4 linked regions of the Homo sapiens genome follow. The protein of the gene in region 2 purifies or fractionates together with the protein of the main gene of each other region. This does not show direct contact. Each region holds a gene or a part of one and is shown on either strand. Other genes may lie near its edges. The genes, in order: IL36G, CDK15, NDRG1 and SERPINA3.

Evidence for each region.
Region 1: the proteins of CDK15 (region 2) and IL36G purify together in Homo sapiens (affinity purification with mass spectrometry; 2 studies listed by BioGRID and IntAct, with this or other methods). This does not show direct contact.
Region 3: the proteins of CDK15 (region 2) and NDRG1 purify together in Homo sapiens (affinity purification with mass spectrometry; 2 studies listed by BioGRID and IntAct, with this or other methods). This does not show direct contact.
Region 4: the proteins of CDK15 (region 2) and SERPINA3 purify together in Homo sapiens (affinity purification with mass spectrometry; 2 studies listed by BioGRID and IntAct, with this or other methods). This does not show direct contact.

The regions. Positions count from the first base shown.
Region 1 is NC_000002.12:112,974,003-112,981,015, forward strand, and holds the start of IL36G (interleukin-36 gamma), read left to right. Parts: upstream 1-4,003; 5' UTR 4,004-4,076; intron 4,077-4,617; 5' UTR 4,618-4,636; coding exon 4,637-4,691; intron 4,692-5,218; coding exon 5,219-5,323; intron 5,324-6,006; coding exon 6,007-6,146; intron 6,147-6,964; exon of another isoform or gene 6,965-7,013. UniProt on the Homo sapiens protein: Cytokine that binds to and signals through the IL1RL2/IL-36R receptor which in turn activates NF-kappa-B and MAPK signaling pathways in target cells.
Region 2 is NC_000002.12:201,879,514-201,886,545, reverse strand, and holds part of CDK15 (cyclin-dependent kinase 15), read right to left. Parts: intron 6,519-7,032; coding exon 6,379-6,518; intron 4,282-6,378; coding exon of another isoform or gene 4,241-4,281; exon of another isoform or gene 3,855-4,240; intron 1-3,854. UniProt on the Homo sapiens protein: Serine/threonine-protein kinase that acts like an antiapoptotic protein that counters TRAIL/TNFSF10-induced apoptosis by inducing phosphorylation of BIRC5 at 'Thr-34'.
Region 3 is NC_000008.11:133,294,236-133,301,452, forward strand, and holds the start of NDRG1 (protein NDRG1), read right to left. Parts: upstream 3,018-7,217; 5' UTR 2,899-3,017; exon of another isoform or gene 2,502-2,898; intron 2,456-2,501; exon of another isoform or gene 2,404-2,455; intron 1-2,403. UniProt on the Homo sapiens protein: Stress-responsive protein involved in hormone responses, cell growth, and differentiation. Acts as a tumor suppressor in many cell types. Necessary but not sufficient for p53/TP53-mediated caspase activation and apoptosis.
Region 4 is NC_000014.9:94,615,391-94,622,390, reverse strand, and holds part of SERPINA3 (alpha-1-antichymotrypsin precursor), read right to left. Parts: intron 3,197-7,000; coding exon 2,923-3,196; intron 51-2,922; coding exon 1-50. UniProt on the Homo sapiens protein: Although its physiological function is unclear, it can inhibit neutrophil cathepsin G and mast cell chymase, both of which can convert angiotensin-1 to the active angiotensin-2.

The sequences.
Region 1 (7,013 bases), about 89 Mb from region 2:
CTTCCAATTATGTAACCTAGTAAATATTTTTATTGTTTTAGCCACTTGAATAGGATTTTTCAGGTTTCGAAGCTGAAAATAACTTAAATTGATAGACTCTTATAAGTACACATATGGGGCCAAGCGTAAACACATTATCATTTTTAATAGCCTCTACAAAATTGCTTTCCAAAAAGTCTGCAATGATTCACACGGCCATCCATGTGGTGAGTGAATCTATTGTCTCACACTATTGCCTACTATCTTTTTAATCTGTGCCTTCCTAATGGGTGGAAACTGAATCTCAGTATTGCTTTGATTTGCATCTTGCTAATTACCAGTGTGGTTTACTATAATTACTTATATTTATTGGACATTTATATTTTCTACTCAGTGAAATACTTTTTACGTCAATTGCTCATTTTTCTATGGAATTATTTGCACTTTTCCTGCTGCTTAGTAAGAATTATTTATAAACTTTGGATATTAATTATTTGTTAGATGTGTTACAAATATTTTATCTTGGGTAGTCTGTCTTTTTAAATTCATTTCATGATGTGTTTTGTCCAAAATTCTAAAATTTGGGTGATATTCAATTTATCATCTTTTTTTTTTTATATGGATTTTGCACTTTGTGTGATTTGGGGCAAAGAAGGCTAAGGGTTCTCTGTCATTTGGCTCTTTGTCTAGGAATTTCAAACTCTAGGCATTTAACCTGGACCCCTTTCTCAGGAGTTGCACTATGTGCTGTCTAATTAAGGCTTTTTATTGCTTTAGTTCTTTGTTGTTGTTGCACATAAATGACAATTTAACCAATAACTGTTTTAAATTTAGAGAAATATGCCTTTACAATAGTCCTATATGGTTTGGTTCTTTAGTCTTAACTCTTTTAATGTTTCTATTTATTACTGCCATTTTGATGTGTAGCTTTGGGGTTATTTTTGTTACTCTGTCCTTCATTTAAATAGCGTGTTGGCCTATGTGCCAAAGTCTGGGGTTTCATAGAAACCAGCTTCAGGAAGATGTAATGGATCAGCTCATAGGAAGCAAGTCTTTGATAATGGGCTTGGGCTATGTGGAGGAGCAGAGGCTTTCGGCCATGTCCATGCACATCATTCCATCTACGTTGGGTAAAGGCTTTACCACAGAGCCTATGCCAAGAGCTTCCTTGGCATTTTCCCAAGTCCACTAGAGTACAAATGGCCCCACACTGGTCTCTGTGGTTCATGGTACACACCATGTTGCCCCACCAATTTAAGCGAGATGAATGCCAACTTCTTTCCAGTGGCAATCTTCAGGCCAGGTTGCCAGCCTGCTTGTAGATAGCCCTTGATAGGTAATAGGCCACATGGCTTTGGTCCTCTTTGGGGGCCCCAAGGAGGACCTATGACTCCAGCAGAGAGCTCTGCATTTGGAGTCCGGAGTTATAGATTCTAAGTTTAATTTTACTACTAAGGTGATTTTTTTTATGGTTGGCAATGGTGGGGGCTGAATAACCTTTACTGCTCCATGGCTCCCTCTGCTTTGTTATGATTGTGTGCCTGGTTTCATGAAAAAGGTGTTGTAGAGATTCTAGAGATTGTAGTGGTGGTCAGTAATCAAGTTCTCTTACCCTACCTGCATTTCATTGATATTCCCTCAACTTAATAAGGTAATGAGCATGTTAAGTGAACAAACTAGTAGCAGGGCTTATTACCAAATGAATGTAGATTGACAGTGTCATAGAGCTTGGAAATTAGAATCTGGACTAAGTGTTTTCTTAAAATCATTTTCATATCTAGGGAATTTGGCCTTGTCAGTACTTATGGTAATTAAATTCAAGCCACACTTAATGATAAGCATCATTGTCATTGTTCTCCATGATAATAAATCGTTGATAATAAATAAAACAATCAATGGTAATAAATAAAATATAGCAACGCTATGTTCTTTACTTTTTATAACCAGAATCAATATTGATGGTTTTCTCAAGTACAGCCAGGGTATCATGTAATTATAACATCCATCCCTTCCACTTTAAGATAAACGTTCGGGGCCATTTCTTCAGTAGATGTGATCTCTGCTCTTTACTGATCAACCCCAGTGATTCAGTTCTCCCCTTTTATCATCATCACTCCTACTCCCTCCAATTTCTCTGATACTTATTCACACTAACAGTTAAACTAGGGACTTCAGGATGGATGCTGAGTGCTGGGAATTCTAGGAAGGGCTGGATTCTCTGAGTGCTTGGAATCTATTGAAGGGTCAGGACCAAGTGGAATGAGGGCGGAGGCTGAAGAGGACACATGTCACCCTCTTTTATAGTTTTTGCAACCTTCATCTGGGCGTGGGAAGTTCTAGCTGTACCCACAGGCTTTTGAACCAAAGAAAATTCAGCTGTTAGAGCTGTGTCCTGTGAGTCCTCTGAGCATCCTCTTCTTGACCCCTCCCCTCCACCTTCATGCTCCAAGCATTGACCAGACTGTACTCTCTTTTCAGAGGTCTGAGCATCAATTTGGCAGAGAACGCCTCACCTCCGACTCATATCTGGGGATAAGTCCTACAAAAGCGCTCCTTTGAGACCTAGGTTCTTTTGTTCCCTTTTGTTTCCTTCCTGTAGTTGTTACTATCTGAGATACCACAGCAATCCCTTAATCTTCTTTGGCTTTCCAACACACGTGTATCTAGTTCCTTTTATTCAATTCCCTTTGTTTGCAATTCCTAGCATGGATTCTGCTTTCAGAGGGATCCCAGTTGGAAATTCAGGCTTAAGGGATTTGGGGGGTCAAATGATGGGAATTTTAGATGCTGTTTTGTGGTGAACATCCCAAGAAAGGAGTTATGTTGACTGATGTGTAATGGAGGGGATTTTTAACAGGGCAATGGAGACTCAAGTGAGGTGGCACTGGCTCAGGTTGACTTTGAACAAAAGTGCACCTGGCATTACCACACTCTTTCCTAGGGTCACAGAAACACTGGAAGCCAAAAGTGATAGAATTGGGGCCATGGCAGGAAAGGACTGTGTTCTTCCAAGGCCAGAAAGGAGATTAGGGTGAAAAGTAAGAGACGTTGAGTCAGGAGACTCTTTGCAGGGCTGGGAAGAGGGGCTCATGGATGAGCTTATCTGGAAGGTTCTGTCTCATTCTTTGTGCTTTTCTTCCTTATAGATGGGTAAACCTGAAGCTGTTAGTGCTTCAAGTCTGTCTCCTAAAACTCACTTCACTCTAGTAGTTAACTTATACCTCAGTAAATTTTTAGGCTTGGCTACAGCAGATAGGATGGGGTGTATAAACAAGATATAAAAATAACTATTACCACTGATCAGGAACCTAGGGCAGAGGGTGGGGGATAAGCTGGCATCTGGGGCTCAGATTTGGGAGAAATCGCTGCCCACCTCTTTACTTCCTTAGGCAGTTCTGGAGTCCACTGCATTTTGAGGGTACCTGAAACTAGGATTGCCTCAGTTAAAAGACCAGTCTGCATAGTCCCTGTGGCTCCCCATGTGGATGGAGCTGAAAGAGTGTTAGGTAGGGGAGCTCTACTGCCTGGCTTTCCATTCAGGTGTGGCCTTAGGTGGGGTAGTTGAGAAATGCCACAGGGACCTTGCCTGAGACGTGTGGCTAATTTTGCTCTTACAGGATGCCTTTAGCCTGACTGCAGAGGGCAAGGCTCCCAGTCCCAGGAGATGGAGTCCCTGACATGAGAGTGCCTGGCATTTCCAGTTCTAGCTCTAGAATGACATGACAGGAGAGCTGAACTCTGGGAAATTCCCTTAGTTTCCCCTTTATGAGAAACCTAGGATCTGTCATCAACCTCATTTCCTTGTGGTTGATTTTGTGCGGATTGGCTCAACACTTATTTCTCAGCGAGCCCGGACAGGTGATACTTGTGCTAATTCTGTGATTTCTTCCTCCGAGCCTCACAGGATCTTCTGGTAGGAGGAGCTGGTTTTCTTTCATGTCATACGTTTCTCATGCCCCACCCAGGAAGCTGGAGCCTCCTTCTCTGCTCATCCAGATAAATGATCCAGGCTCCATTAGAACCCATCACTGACCTTGGAAGCTGCTGGAGCCACGATTCAGTCCCCTGGACTGTAGATAAAGACCCTTTCTTGCCAGGTATAGTCAATAGCTGGAAAACCTCTTCTCCCTCCCTCTGGAGCCTTTCCTCTCATCTGTGCTTTGGGCTTAATGAAGGGAAGGGCCACATCAGGCTGGCTCTGTGCTTTGTCCTATGTGTGGCTGCTTCTTACTGGGGAGTTGCTGGGATCCTGGCAGAGTGGCCCTGGCATGGGACCCTCCCCTGCTCCTAGGCAAAAACAATGCCGATGAAGGGGTGGAGGCTTCAGAGAAGAGGAGTCAGGGCATCAGGTGCCTGTGGGTTATTTAAGGTCAAATTTTATGCCTGGCCTTCGAACTCCTAGGGGAGACACTACCATACTATCTGGATCTCCAGGTGGAGGAAAATTCTACCTGTTCTCCCTTTGCTGATGCTTCCTTCAAGTTTCGTCCCAGATGTGGCTCAGAACTTCTGCCCAGAGCTTCGTGTCAGGCCAGGTTTCCCAGCTCCCTGTCTAGAATGAGGGCCTGTGGAGCTAGTGTCCTGGAAGGTCTTGGAAACATCTCTTGTGGTTCATCTGTTCTATGTCTGCTTTCACAGGTGCTGAGACAACCACACTATGAGAGGCACTCCAGGAGACGCTGATGGTGGAGGAAGGGCCGTCTATCAATCAAGTGAATCAAATGCTGTTGGGATGGGGCTCTGGAGGCTTAGGCCCTCTGCACTCACGCTATCTCCTGTGGAAGCCCCAGCCTTCTCTGCTCCTCTCTGTACACTGCCCTTCCCACCTGGTGCTGCCCACCTACCACTGGGCCCTGGGCTTCTGGAGGGTGGGAGCTATTGCTTAGTCACTGATCCAGCTCCAGTCCCCAGCACCGGGGCCAAGCACAGAGTAGGCACAAAAGAGGGTAGCTGGGCCTTGGCACACAGGTTCTGTGAGACTGCTCATTGCCCTCTGTCTTGATAGTTTGCCCTCTTAAACCAGTGACTTCCCTTGGTAGCCCTTGCCTTCCTCACCAGAGCTCACAACTTCACTAGAAAGAAAGGCTAGGCTGATGGGTGATGTGAGTGCTGTCAGTTTGGGGATGCAAACCCCACACCTTCCTTACAAAATGGCCTGGGTTAGATACTTTTCTCCTGGGTCTAGTAAAGCAGCCTTGATTATAATATTTCTTCATTTTTTTCTCTATCCCAAAATCAGTGTGTAAACCTATTACTGGGACTATTAATGATTTGAATCAGCAAGTGTGGACCCTTCAGGGTCAGAACCTTGTGGCAGTTCCACGAAGTGACAGTGTGACCCCAGGTGAGTGGTCACCCTGTGCCTTCCCCACTGTTTGCACTGCTGTGGCTGGGAAGCTGGCATCAGCCTTTTGTAAAAGTGTGACTTTACAATGGGGCCCACCAGGAGTGGGGAGAATTTCACACCTAATTGGGAAGAGAAGTCAGGGAGAACTTTGGGTTCCACTAAGATGAAGAAGCCAGAGATGGTGGAGGAGCCTCCAAGGGAATAGGAAAGCTGCTGTCAGTCATCTGAAGCCCTGTCTTATGGAAGACTAGTAGCTTGTTCTGCATGACTTCAGGGTGTCCTAAAATGACTAAATGGGTGAATACCACAGAAAGGCAGGTTTCAGCATCACATTGGGAAAAACTTGCAAAAGGGACCAAGCTCTCCAAGAATCAGAGGGGCTGCTTGATGTAGGAGCTCCCCATCTCCATGTGCTCAAGCAGAGGCGTGAGAATCTCAAGAGCATACTCTGTTGTCTGCTTAGCTCTCTGTGTTTGCTCATTTACTAGGGCAGTGATTGGCACATGGTATGAATGAATGAATGAATGAATGAATATGGGGGTTGGCCATTTGGTGGGTCTAGTTGGGATTACACTCTTCAGCTCTCTTCCAGATCCACTTGAGGATACTGCCCTGCTAAATCAAATAATCTTTCTGACTTCAAAAGGAAACTGATACCATCTCTCCTCTTATCTTTACAGTCACTGTTGCTGTTATCACATGCAAGTATCCAGAGGCTCTTGAGCAAGGCAGAGGGGATCCCATTTATTTGGGAATCCAGAATCCAGAAATGTGTTTGTATTGTGAGAAGGTTGGAGAACAGCCCACATTGCAGCTAAAAGTGAGTAGCTAAGAAAAATATTTAAAAAGCCTTTCCTTTTAGAAGTGTTTGGTTGAATACCTAATTTTAGAATTAAAAAAGAAATAGTCTCATCTTCCTAAGCATATTTATTCCCAGCCTCTTTTAAGTTATGTGCATGCAATACACTTTTCTTTTTATTCTGGCTGTCAGTAGTTAAGGTCCTTGTTTTGCTTTTTTTTTTTCCAAGCCAAACTGCATCCAGCTTTATTAAAGATACTTTCCATAAACATTCATGGTATTTCAGGCAGGATATGGGCAGACAATTGTTAAGAGTATGCAGCAAACTTCAAACTCCCTTGTTCAAAGGACTACCAAAAATCAGAAAGCCACTATAAAACTCAATGAAGTCTTCATCTGATGCTCTGAACAGGGAGAGTTTAGAGTGAGAGTTGACATTTCACATTTAGCATGTGGTTTAAACTTTTCACAAGCCAACCCTGACTTTCAGGAAGTGAAATGAAAATGGTAGAATTTATCTGAAGATCCACGATCTAGAAACAGAACCACTGCTCTTTTGACAGGTGCCATCTCAGTGGCATCACTGGAAAGTCCAGAGTGCCTGACATACTGGTAACCAATGATTGAGGGCCAGGTCCCAACAGATGTCTGGCTTAAAGGAGTTAAATCTATGCTGAAAGATGGAAAGGGAGAAGAGGACATAAAAATGAATTTATTTTCCATACCACAAGGCTTTTCTGCCAAGGTGGCCATGTGTGTCAAAGTCAGAGAATCCCTCCTCCTGGGAGCCAAGAGGAACTCTCTCAAAACTAGAAGGGAAAGGTGTTTTCCCCACATCGATCCAGCTTTGGAGACATTCTATTAGTGACATATGCCCCTTCCCCTAAA
Region 2 (7,032 bases):
TGAGACCAGCCTGGCCAACATGGTGAAACCCTGTCTCACTAAAAATACAAAAATTAGCCAGGCGTGGTGGCACAGGCAGGTAATCCCAGCTACTCGGGAGGCTGAGGCGGGAGAATTTCTTGAACCTGGGACATGGAGATTGCAGTGAGCCAAGATCATGCCATTGCGCTCCAGCCTGGGCGACAAGAGCAAAAGTCCATCTCAAAAAAAAAAAAAAATCTTAAAACCCAAGGCTGATTGCATATATTATTACAAGAAAAGAAAAGAAAAGAAAATAAACTAAAGTAAGATGGCATTGAGGAAGAAGTTGGTCCTGGGGTGTAAATCTCTATTCAACATAAATTGAGCCCTCTTAATTGTGAGATATTAAACACGCTACCTGGAGATGTGTGGAATCTTTCCCAGAAAAGCTTTAAAATAAACACAGTACATGAGAGAGTGGGAGGAGCACAGAACTGGGCATCAAGATCTTGGTTCTAATCTTGATTTTGCAGCTAAGTTCCTATGTGATCTTTAGCAAGAACAATGAATAGTAGGAAAGGAGTAGCTTTTAGGAGTCAGATTTGAAGTAAAATCTTGGCTCTACAACTTTCTAGCTGTGTGACTTCAAGCAATTAGCCTACCTGACTTCCAGCTGTCTAATCTGTAATATGAGGATAACAATTCCAGCCTCACCAATTAGTACATAGATTGATAATTTATATAAAGCATATAGATGTCCAATAAAAGGCAGGTACGATTATTCTTCCCTGGGCATCAGTGACTCAGCTATATAATGAAGGTATGGAATAAGTAATCTTTAAGATCCTTTATAAATAACTCTTTTCTGAATTATTTATCTTTACTTGGAGACTCAGCCATGAACGTAACAAATTTAACCAACTTAAGGGCTTGGTAGGGCTGAGGGACTTGGTTTTCCCAGACTTCTCCCAGCAACACAATGCTATGCAACCCCATAAACCACGTCTCAACCCAGTATCTCCTCTAACATATTGAAATGGATGGAGAACAACTTTGTGCATAGAAGGTGAGGAAGTGTGTTATGGAGGACATCTCCAAATTCGCTTCTTAAGGGCTGATTAATGGAGGATTTAAAAGGTGGACAGATTGGTCTGAGTTACGTTACAAACTCCTAGAAGTAGCACAGAGTCAAGAGGATGGCTGAGAATCTTCCCTCCCTCTTTTCCAACATCCCCAGCCCCTGAAACCTGGCCTCATAGAATGACAAAATATTCTGGTTCAACTTTGAATAGAATACACAAAAAAACCAATAAACAGAATAGGTTTGAAATTACGTGGAAGCATTCAGAGTGAAACTAAGCTTGATTAGTACATGTTAAAGAATGTTTAAATTGTTGCAAAAAGGCATACGATGGTAAGAAAAACTACAATGGTATATGAGTTAAGACTGAGCCACTATGATTAAAAAGAAGACAACTTCAGAATGATCTTAGATGGTATTGAGAGGAACACGACATTCCTTTGCCCGTATGCCCTTCCTCTCCAATCATCCAGACCCATCATCTTTCAAGGCCCACTCACAAAATCATCCTGGATCCCCACAGCTGGAGTTAATCTCACCTCCTTCAAACACTTAGAGCACTTTATTTGTATACTTGATCTGCAGCTGTTTATATACTTGTCTTATTTCCTAAAGGACCGTAAGCTCTTTGAGGACAGGGTCTATGACTAATTCATTTTTGTATCCTTTAATATCACACCTCATGGACACTCAGTAAACCTCCAATGAATGAATGGAACATGATTCTCCCACCATGCAAGAAATTTGAGTCTATGCTGCCTCCATATTCTCAGAGATAAGCAAAATAATTGGAACAGATTCAGAAGAGAACAATAAAACAAAATGACTAAAAAGTGGGAGAAACAGAATTTGTATTTGGAAACAAAGGTTAAAGGAATTCAGCCTAAAGTGGCCTTTGGGAAGTGATATCATAGGGACCTTCCAATATATTAAGGAGATAACACTCAAAGAAGGCCTGAAGTTATTTTATTGAACCAAAACAAAACACGACTCAGATTTTAACAGGGCAATGAGGCATGCTGAAGAACTTTCGGAGTATAGATATCGGGATGGTGTGATCAAAGGTAGAGGTAAATGCCATGCTTTCTTCCATCCCTATGTGTATATAAGTATACTCTAACAATGGGGGCTGTGGTACAGCATTTTTGCAAAATTACTTGTGAAACAATTGCAAGCTTTTTAGATTTTCTCCCCCTAAGATGCTAAAACCTGTTTTAAAGGAGAAGGGGATTTAGTCCAGGAAGGAATGGGAGACTCAAGTATGAGACTTGGCTAGCAAGCAAAATGGGACCAACCCAGAGAGAGAGAGAGAAAGAGAGACAGCCTTTGATGTCCTGACGATCAAGGACCATGGCTTAAAGACCAGACTCTTAAATCACGTGTCATTTACTGCCTCAGATAAAAAATACTTTTCTGGATCAGTGTCTGTAGTTCAAAATGGCTAGGTTCCAAAATCAGTCTTAAATTTCCAAGGGTAACATTTGGAAGGTTTCCTGAAAGAACAGAGCGGAGCCAGTTTTAAGAAGGGGCAGCTTAATGATTTCCTACTACCCCCACCCCCAAATCATTAAACAGTGTTCCTTTCCCAGAGCCCAAGTTCATGCTGAGGGCAAAGAGAATTAAATGAAGAAGCTGAACCTGCAGCTAAGATTAGAGAGTTGCCAAGGGCCTAATTTTAGGTCCTAGCTGCTCCAGCTGACGTCCTGCCCTGCTGGCTCAGCCACGAGGACCACAAGTGTGGCCATAAGCCGGTGTCTGAGTGGGAAGAGCGACTCCCTGGCCATCTGCAAAAGCAATTAGCTTGCTGTTGGCTGTGTTTTGAGAGGGACTACCAATAATTTCTCCTTCAACAAGTGTTTCTTCAGGTGTTCACGAGTCAATAAGGGAAAATGTCAGAACTTGGCAGAAGTTCCCACATGCTTGCCATTCTAATATTCACACTTTTCCACTTCAGGTGCTGTCCAAAAGGAAACTAATCCTGGAATTCCTGGTTTTCATGGCAAATAACCCCCTGATAAATGCCCTTTGGCTCTAAGCGTACTGCCACAACCTAGGGAAAGCATTGTTCGGGACTTCTCAGCGTCATGAAAATAGAGATGGACTGGAACAATTCTTTCATTTTGTGTGGAATTTCTATGCCGCTCCTACACTGGGATTTAGGCTGTCCTTCCACTCTCCACGTATTTCCCAGTCCCAGGCTTTATGCTTTAATTGTCTTCTTTAGAGGGCAGACAATAAGAGCTGGCATCTTCCAGATCAAAGGGGAAACAGAATATATTTTAAAGTGACAACTCTGTTATCCTGCAACCAGAATAAAATCAGAATAATAAAATGATATAAATATAAGCCCCTAAATAATTTTATACTGAAATGCCACCAGAGAGCAAAATTTCTTGCATAATTATGGCAGAGAAACTCTCCTTACAAATCACTCACAAGAGCATGCCGATTTTTGCACAATTCTCATGCCTGGGGCAGCCCTCCTCAGGGATGGAGTTTCTATGTCCCTGCAGATTGGGAACTGTGATTACCCACTGGTGTGCTCTGTCTGCAAAGGAGGCTGTTAATAAAGGCTCATTGCCAGGGGCAATGAAAAAGCAGGCTGGCACTGCCAGGCCAAGGACCGCATCTCTTAGTAGATAATGTGCTGGTGGTGAGAGCCACTGTCACGAAGGTGCACAAACCAGCCCTGGCTGCTTCTGTCTCTTCCTCTATTTTTCTTTCCTGGTAGCTTTGCTTTTTCTATCTACTTGTCCATCTGTCTATATACATATTTCTGCACACCCACCACCCTGTCACACACATACACAAGCACACACACATGCTCGTGCACTCATGTGCACGAGCACACACACACAGAAGCACACACACCCAATCTTGCCCCCGCCTTTCCCTGTCTCTTGGCACCGGCGCTTTCATCTTCTCCCTCGGGGATTCGAGATGTCGCTGCAGGAAATGCTTGTCCGCCGAGGCAGCAGCAGCAGAGCCCTGTGGCTTTGACAAACCTCATTTAATTGGGAGGAAGCCAGGAGAATTTGAAAGAACTGAAACATCCACGAAACTCCTTTTATCAGGCATAATTTAAACTCTGCATGGAAAAACCCCTATATGTATAAAGAAAAGTCAACTTCCCTCCTGCTGTGAGCACTCCTGGTTTCCCCCGCTAGTGCAGGCAGCCTCCTACAAGATTCCATCTTTTCATTTTTCTAAAAGTGTCAAAGTAGATTTGGGCTCTGTGACTGGGCGAACAGGGAAGGAATACAGATTGTTCTCTCTGTCTCTCTCTCACACACACACACACACATACGCACACACACATATACACACATACACACACAACCTTAGATACCCATGCACCACGGCCCCTCTGTTGGTGGCTTTGCTTTTGGGTCAGCCAGGAAAAATCAAAACCCAAGTTTCTAACAACACATCAGTTTGGACAGTGATTGTTTCTTCCTAATCATCTTGCGTCAAGCAAAAGCTGGAGCCTAGAAAACTCTGAAGATCCCCAGCAATTGTCAGCATGTGGAATAACAGATCCTAAAGGAGGGCCAATGGGGAAAGTTTCTTTAAGTGGAGAGAAGGGAGTGTGTGTGTGTGTGCGTGTGTATGTACATCCAAGCGTGTACACTTGCATGAAGTAATAGAGTTATAAGTCCCAAGTCTGACAGGAGAAAGCTGAAAAGGAACAATCTAGGGGCTTGGACTGGGAAGAGGGGATTGGGATGGGAGTGGCCGGGGAGGAATGGGGCTGAAGTGGGGGCAGAGGTACCAGGAAAGGAGTGAGAACTGTGGATCTGCCTGCAATGTCTTTTGTTCCACCCATATGCCTCTCTCCTCCTTCCAAATTCCACTTTAGATTCACCTCCAGTCTAATCCATCTCATTTGAATTCTTGTTCCTCCAAATAATTGCCTTCAACACACACATAGTCTCTGCACATCTGCAGTTGATTATGCACAGATTTTTTGCTGTTTAGATATGATGTGTGCTGATATGTGTGCGAGGGTGCCCCGTTTCCTCTTCCTCACCCTCTTTTCCTCCCACTTCATAAGAACCTGGAGGCCAAGGACAAGTCTCTTGTTTTCCTCAACTTTTTATAGCACTCAATATGTTCTTGACACTTAATGGCAATTTAATAAATACTAATGACTGACTCTTTCTACAGGGTTAAGTAAGACATTAACCCCAGTTGTATGATTATGGTTATTTTTGGAGATCCTAAATGACTCACTTTAGTCATAAAACAGAATGCCTCAGCAAGTCCCAAACTAAGCGCTTTGGACTGCTGCAGGACGATGTCCTAGACACAGAGGAGCTGCGTCTGCAAACTCTGGCAAGGCGGACCAGGCTGTTTCCACACCTCTTGGGCAGTAGCTCCTCACCCTGTCCCCATCCTTATCTCACTGCACCCCATCGCCACTCCCCCACGCCCCTTCCAGTGTCCTCATCGCAGTTCCAGCCCTTAGGCCCTCCCTCCTAAGCTTTCTTTTCTCTGGCTTAGGACTTCTAAAACCAACCCTGGCTGCTTCTCTCTCTTCTGTTTTTCCTTCCTGGTAGCTTTGCTTTTCTTGTCTACTTGTCCCTTGCTCCTAAAACTATTTTTAGTTGAATGGTGGATTTTTTTTCAAAGAAACCTCACCTAAGGATAGTCCCCCATGACCACTGCCCACATCCTCCTGTAGCCCTTCCTGGCCACAGTCCAAGAAACATGACGGGAGTTCCAACCACATGATCCCTCAGCAGATTTCAGGTTTGGAAGATGACTTCAGGCCCAGGCAGCAAAGGCTGATTCCAAGGTAACTTGTGTTTACAGGAGGTGGGCAGCCTCGGAGGAGACCTCCCTTCCCCCAGCACCCCACCCCGGCACTGCCTTCTGCAGCTTGCTATTACCAATCAAGAAAGGCCCAGCTCCCTCTCAGGACATATCCGCTTCACCTATCATCTTACTCTCCGCAGAAAGGGAGAAGAGTCTTGTTAGAAACACTGGTGTGGCTTCCTGGCAGATGGTAGCTAAGGCAAACAACTCAGAGACAACGTCCATCTCATCCAATTTCTGAGTGTAAATGTGTACCTGTGAAATGTCTGGACCATTACAAAGAGGTCCTTGTAACCTCTCCCCACCAGTGCTTCAGAGTTTGAGAGAAGCTCATGCAAAACTCAGACAAGATTAGGTCCTATCTTGCTTCTCCCAGGCAAACTGATCTCTAACTTCACTCCTGGGGGTAAATGCTATGATTCTCCGGTGCTGAGGCAAACTACTTAAGACACCAAGACTTACACACACACGCACTCACGCACATGCACTCACGCACACGCACACACTCCCTCGCTCACCATCAGGAAGCTGGTACAGCTGAGATGGCAGGGCGCTGAAATAATCATGAACAAGTGCTTCCTGGGCGGAGACGCGGTCTCTGGGAAAGCCTTTTAGCATCTGGGAGGCCAGGTCTTCAGCTTCAGGAACCCTGCCCAGCCTGGAAAAGTGGGAGAGAAAAATAGAGTTTCTCCAGCAGCCTCCCTTCTGAAAAACAAAGGGATAAAAACAAAAAGTAAAGAAAAGGAGATGGCTAGACTTAGATTTTAAGTAGAATTTTCCTGGAATTGCTAAAGTTGATGGCAACTGGAAAAGTAACCCCCATACTAAACTCTTACTGACTGTCCTGTTACTAAGTTGAAGGGGAAAAATCTCCTCATTCTATCACTCAGCTCCCTTGCCCTCCACCGTGTGTCTGGGCACCATGTACACATAAAAGACACAGAAATATAATTATAAACAGAAATATATAATCAAGGATTCTTTTTGGAGGAACACTGCAGCCCCAACCAAGTAGAAAGGCCTGATTCAAAATACGATCGAACTCTGAGAGGCTGAGGTAGGCAGATCACTTGAGGCCAGGAGTTTGGGACCAGACTGGCCAACATGGCGAAACCCTGTCTCTACTAAAAACATAAAAATTAGCTGGGCGTGGTGGCATGCACCTGTAATCC
Region 3 (7,217 bases), on a different chromosome or scaffold from region 2:
CCCACCTGAGCCATATGGCAACAGGCAAATCCTGAAACTCTCCTGGCCTCAGTTGCCTCATCCATTCAATGGAGCAATACGATCCAGGCAACGTTCTTGCGAGGATGAAGGCAGATGGAGGGAGACAGTGGCTGCTCTGGAGGGAGAGAGATGTCGTGTCCCTCCCTGGCCTTCCTTCCAGGCTGAGTCAAACCTGAACCCTGCTTGAGTCTCAGATGCTGAGTCATCACGCTTTCTCTCCCAGGACAAGGCCTCTGAGTCACATCTGGAATGGGATTCTCTGGGGTTGGGTCCCAAGGAAGAACTGCAGCTTTGGGCCACCCGAAAAACACAATGCTATCTTTCTTTCAGGTCCATGAGGAGGCAAGTTCAGGCCAGCGGATTTCAACGTAACCCAGGGGGGCCCTCAGCTCAGTTGAGATCTGTCTTCTGTCATGGGGGGGGGGCAGCCCCATTCAGTCAAAGGCCAACTCAGGGGGCTGCAGCCTCTAAGCCCCTGCCCTTCAGGCTGGCTTTGCTAATCTCTCAAGAACACCTGATTTACACTTAAAAAAAATCATTCCGCTCTGCCCCTTTGGCCTCAAAAGTTTCCTCACCAGAAATTCAATGAAGATGCAATTTCCTTTCGCCCCTCCATAGCAGGCAGGCAAAATCCTGCCAGGAACCCTTTCCACTGCCTTCAGTCCCACCCAGGAGCCTCTCACAAAGCTGAGCTCCAGCTCAGTTCGGCCTGGGCACATCCCTCCCCATCCCTGTGCCTCATTTTCCATCTGTAAAATGGAAAGAAGTTGGACTAGGTAGGTCCTGTGTGAGTTTTTTATTCCATTCCAAATGATCAAACTTTGTTGCTCCAAAAGAACTTCCTCACAAGAGACCCAAACAGACACTCCAGGATCCCTCAAAAGCAAAAGCCAACACCTCCACCCATGCACAGTCTATTACCTCGCCCGAAACTCAACCTGCTGGTTCACAGGAGAATGGGGCAGAAGACCCAGAGCCATCCACTTCATCCCATGTGCATATTTCAACTCCTCCCACCTGCCAGGCGCTGGGCCAGGGGCCAGGTTACAGGGCAGGGCAGGCAAATCCTCCTCCTTGCCCAGATGCAGTGGGAGACACGGTCCCACAAAGCTAAGAAGTCACAGGTCAGGGGAACACCCAGTTTTCCATCCACACCAAAACCCTCTCTCTCCCTTACACCTTCCTTCATCCCCGACACTGTGCCACCCCAGCCTGGGGCTGGCTCTGCCGCCACACACACCACACAGAACCGGTCTGCGTCTCCAGCCGTGTGTCTTCCCCACCAGAAGGCAGCCCTTCCAAGAAAGGCGCTGGGGTTTGCCCCCTCTGTACCTTGCTTATTTCAATCACATTTGTGAAACTCAATAAGAACGCCAGAATTTCTCAACAGGAAGAGTCTAGACTGAAAAATTCGCCTTGAAACTACATTTCTGCAGCAAGAACAGGGGGTTTGTATTTAGATATGTTCTTTTGAGGCAGCTTAGGAGAAGGTCCCGTGCAGCTGATGGGTATTATAAGGATGTCTACCGCCCTCCTGCCTGGCCACTGGCTGACTTCTGAATATTAGATATTTCCCAGTAGCTTAAAGAAACCAAACAAACTGAAGTGCCCCCAGCGTCCGTGAGGAAGGGGTGTTCTTGGATGGGCATAAGATAACCAAGGGCCCTGCCTCCCCCACCCACTGCCAGGCATCTCCCACTTCCAAGCCACAGAGGCGTGCTGTTCAGGACCCCCAGGGACAGCAGGGACAACAGGCGGGGGATATGGGGGAGGGGTGGGTAAGGAACCGACCCACTAAATCCCAGCTCCAGCTACTAATTTGACAGAGGCGTGACAGCGTGTTTCCCCCAGAACCAGCCGCATTCCCCAAGCCCAGCCCGAAATCTCCTCCCGAGGCTGAATCAGAGACCGCGGCGGATCCCCCAGGAACGTCGAAGTAATTCCAGCTGTTTTCCCCCGTGGAGGGCAGGAGCGGCCAGCACCAGAGGCAGGGGAGGGGAGGAAAGCGGGGGAGGGTGGGCGGAGGCGAAAATGACGCCACTCCTAGCTCCAGCCAGCTCAAGGGGCCGCCAAATGTCCGCGAGACCCCTCTCGCCCAGGTCACTTCTCCCACGCCGCCGATGCGCCAATCCCGGGTTCCTCCGGGGGCGCACCCTGCCCAGTGGCGCTCGCAGACACTTGCTCCGGCTCGCGTGTTGCACTGTGACACACCCTGGACCCTCCCCCCACACACACGCTTACACTCACACATGCACACCGCCCTGTGTGTGCTACGGGACTGAAGCGCCACCAGCCTCTCGGATCCACACCCGTTCCCGACCCAGTCTGCAAGCCAGACACACCCACGCCCCCCTCTCCAGCCTCCTTGCCAGCGCCACTCACCTCTACCAACCCCTCATCTACACACTCGCGCGCAATCTCTCCGTTCCCAGACACAGACACACACACACACACACACACACACACACACACACACTCACCTAGTCCCTTCTGCACCCACGTCCAGCGCGCACCCCTGCCAGCGGCGCCAGCTGGGATTCGGAGACGACGCCAGGAAACGCTATCCTGGTATTTTTTCGGACCGTCTCATCGCCCCCTTCCCGACCTCCAGAACCCCAATCCCCAGCTAGGGGGGAGATGAATGGGACCCTGTCTTTTTTTCCTCCCTTTCCGTAATTGAACCCCCCACTTCAGCGGTGTCTGCACCCAAAGCCCCCTCGCGCCCGCGCCCCGGGGTGACCGCGCACTTGCAGCTCCGGGGCGCTTACTCCTGGAGTACGCGGGGCTACAAAGGGCGGTCCTGGCGCTCCAGCGGCACCGCACGGGCGGCCCCTTTCTGCTCCGCGTCGCGCCTGGGAGAAGAGGGCGCGGGCTTACCTAACGCGAGGGAGAAAGGAAAGGACGGTGCCGAGGCTGGCGGCCCAGCGCCCCGCGGAAGCCGAGGGCGGATGGTGAACTGACGAGCTTCAGCACCAGCTGGGAGCCAGGCGAGGTTTGTTTACGTCCGGGCGGAGGGCGACTTTATAGGCGCCGCGGCCCCGCCCCCGCGCCTCGCCCCTCCCAGACCCTCGCAGTCCCAGCACGCAGCCGGGACACACCCCTTCCCCGCTCCCTGCTCCCTCCTCCCGGGCGCGCCGGGCTGGGCTGGGCTCCGGCAGCGCGCGGCGGGCGCCCACTGGAGCCGCCGCCTGTTGCGCAAGCAGTCGTAGGGGCGCGGCCGGGAGGGGCATCGGGGCCCGGGTTGTGGGTCGGCTCTGCAGTCCCCTCCGAGTCCAGGGCCTCGGCCTGTGCAGCGGGCGCGTGTGCCCTGCCCGGAGGAGGCGTTTGTGTGCTTGTGCGTGTTCATGTGCGCGCTCGTGCGTGTGCATGTGGACTTCCTTGTGTCTCCGTATGGGCGGAGGCCCCCCATCTCTGCCTCAGAGTTTCTTCTAAGAGTCTCGTTGCGCCACGCCCTGAGCGACTCCCTTCACTTCCTGTAGGTCTCACCAGCTCGGCTCTCCAGCCGGATTCGGCTGCCTGCCCAGCAGCCGCCTTCGCTTTCGCCCGACAGGCTCCCTCCGATTCTCAGCCTTCCGTGTCGCCAAAGCTCTCGCTGAAATCCTCGCTCCCGTTTAATCTCGTCCATCTTGCCCACCGCCGCCCAGCGCTTACCCTTCCCCTCATCTTCCCAGTTCTAAGCACACTCACTGGACCTTGCCCACTGGGCTCTTCTCTCCTGCCCCACAAGCCCAGATGAGAGGATTCTCACCCCTTCCTATTCTGATTTCCTGAACTTTCATGACTCACCCTTTCCAACCTTAGCACCGTCCTGCTCTGCTGCTCTGTTTGTGCGTAACTATTGGCCTGCATGTTCCCATCTGGCCAAAGAAACCAGCAATTCTCAACCCCTACTGCATATGAGAAGTCCCAGAGGAGCCGCCAAATTAAAAAATAAATAAATAGATAGATAATAAAAAGAGAGAGATGGACTCCAGAACAGTTTAATCAGAATCTCAGGGGGTGCAAACCAACTGGGCATTGGGGTTTTTACAAAGCTACCCAGGTGGCTCCTGACGTGCAGCCAGGTTGAGAAGCACTGCATGGAGGAACATGATTTTATGAATAAAGGAAGTCTGACTCACAGCTGGCACCGTCATTGTCCTCAGGCCACCTGCCCAGCGTTGAATTTGCCACTGAGCCCAGGACCAGACCCAGGGCAAGCTCAGGTGACCCTCCCTGCGCCTCCACAGACACACACGCGCGCACGCACAACACTTCCTGCTGAATTGTAAACCTCTTTTCTGTGCCAACCCATGCTGTCCCCAAGGCAGGGGCCATGGCTTTCCCCTCTGATTATTAGGGCCAGTTTTGGAGAAGGGTTTTCTGGAACAAAAGAAATATGGAGAGGGGCAAACAGCACCTCTAGGACCCAGGACATCTGTGTTTCAGGCCTGTCTTTGACACTATCGATCACAAATCAACAAATCTGGGCTTCAGAATTCTCACTGGCAAAGGGAGAGGATTAGATTCAATGATCTTTCAGAACCTATCTAGTGCTAAAGCTCTGTTATTCTATTACAAATGACCAGTGTGAAGAACAGAGTTCCAGTGTCATGGGTTTTGCTGCTAGAAGAGTTTGGCTAAACTACAAAGTTTGGCTATTAGCTATGAAGTTTGGCTAAACTACAAAGTTTGGCTACATTCAAGAATGCCTTGAATGTAGGAGCACATTCCCCCACCCTAGAAAATTTAACATCTAGAATTAATAAGTGAATGAATGACCACTGGGCAGTCTTCCATTCTTTATGGATTTGAACTAGTTCAACTGCAGCATTCCCAGTGAGGGAAAATTTTTCTTATTTCAAATAAAATGTTGTGTCCAGGTAGAGTGGCTTACACCTGTAATCCCAGCACTTTGGGAGGCCAATGCAGAAGCCTCTCTTGAGTCCAGGAGTTTGAGACCAGCCTTCACAACATAGTGATGTCCCATCTCTACAAAAAAGATGAAAGCTAGCCAGGCCTGGTGGCAAGTACCTGTAGTCCCAGCTACTTCAGAGGCAGAGGTGGGAGGATTGCTTGAGCCCAGGAGTTCCAGAAAAGTCTGAGCAACATAATGAGACATCATCTCTACAAGAAAATAAAAAATCAGGTGGGCTTAGTGGCATGCAGCTGTAGTTCCAGCTACTTGGGAGGCTAAGGCAGGAGCCTTGCCTCCCTAGGCCCTGAAACTTATTTATTCTGTCATTCCACAAATGACAGAATTGAGCTGCTCTTATGAGCTGGGTCCTGTACTCCGCCACTGGGAAAGGACTGAAAAGGCAAAAACATTTTCTACAGGTGCATAGCATGGTACAGCCCCAAGACGCAGTTTCTCCATCCATACAGCGTGGTTGAGATGAACTCATTCATTCCCTAACTATATTAAGGACCTACTATGCCCAGGCACCATTCTAGACCCTGGGGACATGATCATGAACAACAGCAACAACAAAAGTGCATCTCTGGGAGCCATCCTGCTGTCTAAAGACCCTCCCAGATCAAGCAGCCTGTGTGCCTGTTATCCTTTAGCCAGCTTACACATACCCATTTTCCCATAGGCTCCCCATTGCGGCGATTTATTGAGTGAGCACCTTTGGTTTTTTACCTGCTAAAGATACAAGAGTGTCAAGTTCAAAAGTGCGGAGTGTCAAGATAAGGAATGTCAAGTTCAAAGGCGCAGGGAAGGCGGCCCACTTCTTCAGTAACAAATGGAACTAGTGCATGGAATTAGAAGGGCATTTTGCCAGGGGAGGCCCTTGCCTGTCTCTTTGAGGAGGTCCTCAGGACAGAATGCGAAGAGCAGCCCAGATTTGCAGCTTGAAACCCCGAGGAGGTTGCCTGGCAGGAGGCTGGGCTTGTGTGGGAAGCCTAACCTTCTGGAAGACCATTAGCATTGAATAGGTCAGAAGACAGAGGAAGGAGAGTGGAGTGAAGAGAAAAGAGCAGAGAAGGGAGGCAAGAATTTGAGCAATGGAACACAATTTTCCAAGTGATGGCATTCTAAAATCAGAGTCCACATCACCTTGGAGAAGGCCTGAGGAAGACACCATTTGGATTCCACACTCCCCTCCCTCAGCCCAACACAGCCAATTTTCCTTCCCTGTTGAAAAGGATGTTTTCTTCCGCTGAGCACCAGATGAAGTAGTTTTCTTAGCTAAGTGTCACGCTGCAGGAGAAAGACTGTCTTTAGTACAGGCCTGGATGCACATAAAGCATAGAGGACGCCCACCCTATACAGAGGCCCCTCACTGGGACCTGGGAGCTGCATGCACCTCCACATCCCCCACCGCAGCCAGCTGAGGTGGCAGAAGCTCACGGAGCTGAATGTGGGTGCAATTGCACTGACTGTTTACATTATTCCTCTTTCTCGCTGGTCAGCAGTAGAATCAGATTTGCTTAGTAAATGCACACGCGCTGCAAATCCGTCACAGGATGAGATTGGATTTTCTGGACTAATGTCCACTGGAAATTTCTACTTAACAACAACTTAGATTTTATACTAGAATATTCTAACCAAATGTTCCAAAAATGACCATAGGAATCACCTGTTCCCAACTGTCTTTCTTAAAACTCATGGGTACTCGGGGTTGGGAGAGACCAAGATGCAGCAGGGATTCATGGAGAAGAACCCGGTGGTCTGTGGCCCCCAGCTCCAACTTCACCACTTATGAGCTGTAGTACCTGGGGCAAATTACTCCACCTCTCTGTGCATGGAGGAAACGAGTGAGAGAAACCATCAGACCTTTCAATCACAATTTATGGGTCTACTGCTGCAGACCATCATCTTTTCTGTCTGTCAAAATGAAAAAGTGTCCGTAAAAGTGTCTTCCCACCTCCAGTCCTGGGCTCCCTCGGGACCCCCTCTCTCCTCCAGCATCCATCTCTCCCTTTCTTCTGGATCAAACTAATCAACAAGTAAATATTCACTGCAATCAATGACCCACCCTAAACCAATCCCCTCTTAATTCCAAGCCCCCCACTCCTGTACTGCAGCCCAATCAACAAGTAAACATTCACTGCAATCAATGACCCACCCTAACCAATCCCCTCTGATTCCCAAGTCCCCCATTCCTGTACTGCAGCCCAGTTCCTCTCACCCCTTCCTCCCTAAACTTTCCAAAACAAGCATCTGTACCCAAAGGCCCACCTCATCTCCTCTTCCTTTTACTTTGTAGTGA
Region 4 (7,000 bases), on a different chromosome or scaffold from region 2:
TATAGTCCCTCGAGATGGAAAACTTTGGCAGGTAGAGCTCACCTATCTCTCTAGAAAACGAGAAAAAAAAAGTATCTGAACCTCTGCTGATCAGTACCTACCTGCCTCCCACCTCGCAGCATGGTCTTCCCTGGTTTCCTCTACAGTCACCCCCTTCTGATTGGAAAATAAATAATCTGTTCCTCAATTTCTTAACCCCTGTCTTTACTCTTCTTATTCATTAATTATTCATTCAGATCTGCAAGTGTGAAAGTCTCCAGGCAGCACACCAAGCCTGGAGTTGTGGCCCTGCTCGAGCCTGGCCCTGCCCTTTCCCTGCAGCTTGCAATGCAGTTGAAGCACCTTCACACCAGCAGGGACCCCTGAGTGTGTTGAGAGCCTGGGCTGGGCCAGCTGCAGTGGCTGCATGGCAGCCTGCTTCACGGGGGCACCAGGAGGGCTTCCTGTAGGAGGTGGTGTTGAGGCTGAGTCCCAAAGGCAGGAAAGGAGCTAGCTAGGTGAAGAGGTGGGCAGGAGGCAGGTGGAAGAACCTGGAAGAAGGTGGGAGCAGGAGGAGTTGCTCCACGGGGCGGTGGGTGATCTCAGTGTTTCAGGGAGGAGGGTAGTGAGGGATGAGGTGGGCCAGGAGCCAGAGGCAGGTCAAAAAGGGCCTGGGGGCCTCTGAAGAGTCTGATTGTGTTAGAAGAGCTTTGGGGATCCTGAAACAATCAATTGGAGGTTCCCATCTTGCCTCACCAGTGGGCACTGTCCCTCAAGCCAGGTGTGGGCTGGCATAGAGCAGGTAGCAAGCTCCTAGAGGCCCAGGTCACACCTGCCACCTGCAAACTCCCCCTCCCTTAGTTTATAGCCCTCTTAAGATGCCTGTCACTGTCTGCCTGGTCTTACAATTATACAGGAGGCTGTGTCTTCCATTAAACTCTGAGTCCCCTGAAGGAGGAAGGTGTCCTATTTCTATTTTTATTCATTCATTCATGTGTTTGTCCGTTCATTCCATCCTTCATTCAACAAGTATCTATTGAGCATTCTCTGTGGGCCAGGAGTGTGTGGACACATGTTTCCTCAGCATTTTGTAAATCAAAAGTGTTTGGAGAATTCTTTCCACTCAAAATTATCTGCTGAGCCCCTGCTCCCTGGTGGCTATTAGGTGCTAAAGGAGGAAGGAGTCTGGGAGTAAACGGATGGGTTGGGTAGGACCCCCACGTTCTGGGGTCTCCTGGGATCTAGAGTGAGGAGGGGCTGAGGGTCAGGCAATCCCGAGAGGTGTCCGGCCTTCTGGACAGTGGTTGGGGCAGGGGTTGCAGCCTCAGGTTAGTGTTGAAGCAGCTCCCTTGCCCTTAGTGGTTTATTATGGCTTCAACATACAATACCTCACCGGATTCTCACAATCACCCAGTGAAAACAGGGGTGGTGGGGAAAGGACATTCCTTTCTCTTCAGGAGGTAGCTGAGCTCCAGAGAAGAGCAGCGACCTGCTCCAGGTCACACCAGCCACCACGGTCTGAACCCAAGGCTGGTGCTCCTTCCTCTCTACCCCACACAGCTGCCCACATGCACTCCCTGGGCCCACTGCAGGGTCTGGGCCCGGAACTACTGCTCCTCCTCACTGTGTCCCCATGAAATCGGTCAGCTCAATTCCGTGTGTCCCAGCAAGTTCCTCTACCCTCAGATTTATCCAGAACTCAATGACTTCTCACATGCATGGCTCCCTCCTGGATCCCAGCCACAGTGGGCTCCCACCTCATGTCTGTGCCTGGTTCCTGCGGGTGTCACTGACTCCATACCTGCTCTACAGTTATTCTCCTCTCAGCAGCCAGGATTAGTCTTTTAAAACAACACTCGGATCGCAGCACTCCTCCAAACCTCCTGATGGCTCTCCATTTCACACACAGGAGGAAGGGCAAGGTTTTCTAGGGGTCTACGTGGCCCTACCTAAGCTGCTCCACCCCTTTGGGGACTCCTGACCTCTCTCAACTCTCTCCTCACTCTCTCTGCTCCTGCACCGTGGTGGAGCTGAAGTACACAGGCAATGCCAGCGCACTCTTCATCCTCCCTGATCAAGACAAGATGGAGGAAGTGGAAGCCCAGCTGCTCTGGCCTGACTCTTCTTTGACCACATCAAGCTCACTTCCACCTCAGAGGCCTTGCACTGACTGTTCCCTCTGCCAGGAATGCTTTTCCCTAATATACCAACATGACTCCACCCCTCCCCTCTGTTATATGGATGCTCAAACATCACCTAATGGCTACTCTATCTAAAATCACAAACTAACACGAGTTCCAGTTTTCCTGATCCTTTCATCCTCCTCTACTCAATTTCTATCCCCTTACTCAATTTCTCACCTTCTAATATATCACGTAACTTATTTGTTATATTTATTTATTGCCTGTCCCCTCTCCAATTACAAATTAAGCTCCAGGAGGGCAGGGAATCTTGTGTTTTATTTGCTGATTTACTCTCAGGGTGCAAATTAGTGTCTGACACATAGTAGGTGCTCAATTAATCATGCAGCAAATGCTGAGAGAATGAATAAATACAGTGGTTCACCAGTGCAGAACTGATTCTCAGAGTCCATCTCACTGCAGCCCTCAACTGATCACAATTCCTTCTGTTTCTCTCTCCCTTCAAGAGATTGAGACCAGGAGAAACCATGCATGAGTGTTTGGGACTGTGCAGAAGATTTCTCATGACTTAGAACATGCTGGAGTCAGAGGAAGCCTCAGCCCCTTGTCCTGTCTGATGTCATTGTCTTAAAGAAGAAAAAGAAAAATCAAGCCCAAAGCCATGTAGGCAGCATAGGGCAAAGTAAGTGTAAATTCCACCTGTCCCTGTATGAGTTCTCCCACCACCATGCCCTTGTCCCTGGACATTGGTGAGACCTTGACGTGGAGAGATGTGGGGTCTTTGGGGGCCAGGAAGAATCACCTGAACTCCAGAGAGTCTCTCCACCGCTTCAGGGTCTCTGGGAGCAGCATGGCTTCCACTTCCTCCATCTTGTCTTGATCAGGGAGGATGAAGAGTGCGCTGGCATTGCCTGTGTACTTCAGCTCCACCACGGTGCAGGACAGCTCCTCGTCCCGGAAGTAAGGTATAGTCAGGTGATGCAAACTCATCATGGGCACCATTACCCACTTTTTCTTGCTCAAGTAGAACCTTGACTGATGAGTATCTTGGGGGTCAAAGGGCATCTCCCATTTGGCTGAAGGTGGAGCAAGCAGTTGGAGAAGGTGTGAGTGCAAGGGTCGCCCTGCTCGACCCTGCTTCCGCAGCAGTGGAAGTGCCCAGAGTCCCTCATAGGAGGGACCCTGCTTTGGTTTAGAGAAGTAGCTTGGCAAGAGTAAAAGTTATTGGGGGTGAGGGAGAGCCCAGCAGGCTTGGATTGGGAAAAGGGCCACAAAAGAAAGACCTAGTTCCTTGTGCTAAATGAGAAATCAATAGGAACCAGGGAATAAGGAGTGCAAGAGAGAAAGAAGGTTTAGGGAAAGTGGGGGAAAGAGGCATGACAACATGTGGGAGGCTGGTGCCTGAGGAGAAATGGGACAGCCTTTGTTCCATAAAAGGAAAAATGTCTCATTAGCAATTATTACTCACTGGTATTACAGGGATGTGAACATATAACAGTGGCTTGTGGGAGGGCTTTGGGTGGAAATAAGAGGAAAGAGACTGGGTTCTGTATGTGAGTTGGTGAGGGCAGACAGAAGAGATGCCAATCAGTGTGAATGAGGGGAGGAACAGGAAGAACCTTAATGGAAGATAGAACTCAGAGCCAGGAGAGACCATGGGAATAAAAGCCTAGGGACACTTGTGACATCTTAGAGGATAGCGGTGTTGGACATCACAAAAGCCATGAGCTGGCTATGGTCCTTAGCTCATATCTAGCTCATGTCCACCTCTACAGACCATGAATATTCAGCTAAGATTTGCCCTGGATTCAGTGTCTGTCAGGCTGAGGATTCAACTGTGGGTGTTCTGACTCTGAGGCTGCCTAGGCTCTCAGTGTTGCAAAGGTAAAATTCCATGAAACTGCCTCTGGTACCTCTAGCTATCACAAACCTGAAATGCAGCCTGACTCCTAGCCAGGCTGACATAACTCCTCTCACTAAAGGCCTATTTACCATAGTAAAGAGAAAGAGAAAATCTTGAAAGAGGTAGAGGTAGAGGCAGAGGGAGGAAAACTCCACCTTATCTAAAAAGGAATAAGGATGAAAATGACAGCAGACTTCTCATCAGAAACTATGCAAGCAAGGGAAGAATGGAGTAAAATATTTAAAATGTTGAAAATTCCATGAAACTCATTCTTTGGGAATCATGACATAGGCCCATGATTCGCACGCATTTAGTTGGGTACAATTATTTTCCTCCCCTAGAACAGGGGTCAGGAAACTATAGCCTGTAAGCCAATACAGCCATAGCTTATTTTTGTGTGTACCTAAAGCTAAGAATGGTGCTTATATTTTTCAAAGGTTGTAAAAAAAATGAAGAGGAAAGAGAAGATGAAGAAGATGCAGAGGAGGAAGTCAAAAAGAAGAATCTGCCCTCATGTGGACCACACAGCCTAAAATACATACTACTAGGCCCTTTATGGAAAAAAAATTGTCAATCCTTTCTCTAGGTTGTGGGCTCCACAATCTTTCACCTCCATTCTTGGTTTTAGGAGATGCTTGGTAAAAGCTCATAAAGTCACAAACGGCTTTACTTTAGGGGTTAAAATGAGGGAGCAAAAGGAATTTTCAAATGGGCCCAGGTCAACTTTGAATGTTTAATTATTTGCTTTTCTGGACGGCATGTCTCCTACCTAACAAATGGCAATACCACCATCCACCTTTCAGAGCCGCTGCGAGAATTAAACGAGGTATTGCATGTGAATGGCTGGTGAGAGTAGCTGCTCAATAAATGGGAGCTTCTTTCCTTTCTTTCTTTATTTTGGTTTTTCTTTCTGTAATTGCAATGAGAGCCAGCTTCTGGGTGGCCCTACATTCTCTTGTGCCCTCATCTTCCTTCTTGACACTTCCCCACCTTTGGGCTTTCTAGGACCAAAATAACTGTCCATCTTTCCTTTCCCCTCCCCAAAGACCATCTCAGCTTCTCTGGTCCCTGCAGCCTCCCAACATGGAATGACTGGGGACAAATGTAATTGTAAAGATCCCTTGGAGAAAGGACCCATCTCAGGGTAGGAGATATTTCAGTTGAACAGGTGTCCCCGTTACCAATTGCAGCAGCCATTCAGGGGCTTCTGTGGCCTCCATGTGAGGGCAGTGCCATGGAGCACCTTCCCATATTACCCAGGGCACCGAGCTCCTTTGGGGCCTTTCAGCTGGCCAGATCTCCAGCATGGGTCCCTGCCAGAAAGATGGGCTGCCTCTGGGGACCCTGACTGCTGCCTTGTATGCCAGAATGGGGAGAGAGATAGGTTTGGTGGATGAAATCACCACCCAAGCTCTACAAGCCTTTAAATCTTCTCACATCTGCTCCCATCTCCCCCCATTTCTGTCTGCCAGCCACCAAGTTTTCCAATTTTGCCTCCTTAACATCTTCTGACATCCTCAGCTGTTCAACTGAGGGCCCGAATGTCTGGTTAGTCTAGTGTCTTTAGTATCTGATCTCTGCTTGACTCAACTTTCTCTCTGCTGTAACGGCCTTCGCTTCTTATTCTATCTGGATTTAAGAGAAAAGACGAAAACCGTTTTCTAGGGGAAACCTTCCTTTCTTGAATTCCCATCTTCTGCCCCTGGTTGGATGCCCCCACCCCCTTACTTTCAGCTGAATACATAGTTCTAGCATCACTGGGTGAGTCAATCCTTGCATGCTCTTGGGTCCAGTGGGTGCAATGGAAGAGGAAGAGCAGAAAGGGAGGGAACAAGCACTCCAGGGTTCTGAGCTGGGACTGTCTCAGCCTGAAGCTCATGCATGCTCGGTCCCCTCCACCTTCCACAGGGCTGCCCCAGCAGTGACCAAGCCCCGTCACATACACTGTATGTAAACCAGGCTGAGGCAGGGAGCAAAACTGGCACCTGGAGAGTGAGGAGAGGTCAACAGAGGAAGGGGAGGGGCCCTGCAGGTCTCCACTCCAGGAGGACCAGAGCACTGAACAATGAGGGGGGTGGGAGCTTCCAGGGGAGGCTGGAGACATGGGGCCACCTCCACTGCCCACCTGTTTACCACCTGCCTGTTTCCCATTGTTAGAGGCAGGTGGGGAGGGGAAAGCTAGGCTGGCTACTGTGTCCTGGAGGGGAGAGTCCTAGCATAGGGCTAGGTAGTAGGAGGCGAGAACATGGGAAACTCAGAGAACAAATGGCACGTGAGGCGTGGAGTAGTCTTAGAGGGAGATCTGGATCCACGCCTTCATTTACAGATGAAAACCCAGGCCCAGGAGGGGAAGTGGCTTGCCCAGGAATCAACCAACAGCTTCCAAGCAGGACTCTGCCTCCAAGCAGCTCATGTCTCCTAAGCACCTTTCCACCCTCTGGCTCAGTGATCACTCTTTGTGTCCCTATCTCTTTTTTTGTCCCCATCTGGACTGTGGGCTCCAGGAGGCAAAAGCTACCGGCTTGCACTCTGCCCCTTCGGAGCTTGCAGGCTGAGGTTTGCATTGGTTGAGTTTCTATCAATGGGATTGGGCACTGGACCAGTTAGAATCTGGCAAAGGGTCATGTTTTGTATACTGCCCACCCTTGAGGCTCTTCCCCAGATGGGAACAATGCCATTTCTGCCCTCATTTGTTATGTGTCAGTGACATATTTTTTAAAATAATTAAAGATGATAGCAGAGTAGAATCATAGAATCTTGGAAGTGGCCAGGCTCCTTGGGGATTATCTTGCCCTGTGAAGATGGCCCCAGCCCCACCTGGCCACCTCCAGACACCAAGGCCCCTGGCTGGAATGTGCTCCTCCCACATGTGCAGGGCAGGAGCCCCAGGTGCATCCAGACAGAGGGACTTCCTGGCCTAGTCTAGCAGCACCCCTGCAAGGAGGGAGCTCTAGCTCCTACGCGCCCTGGAGTGGTT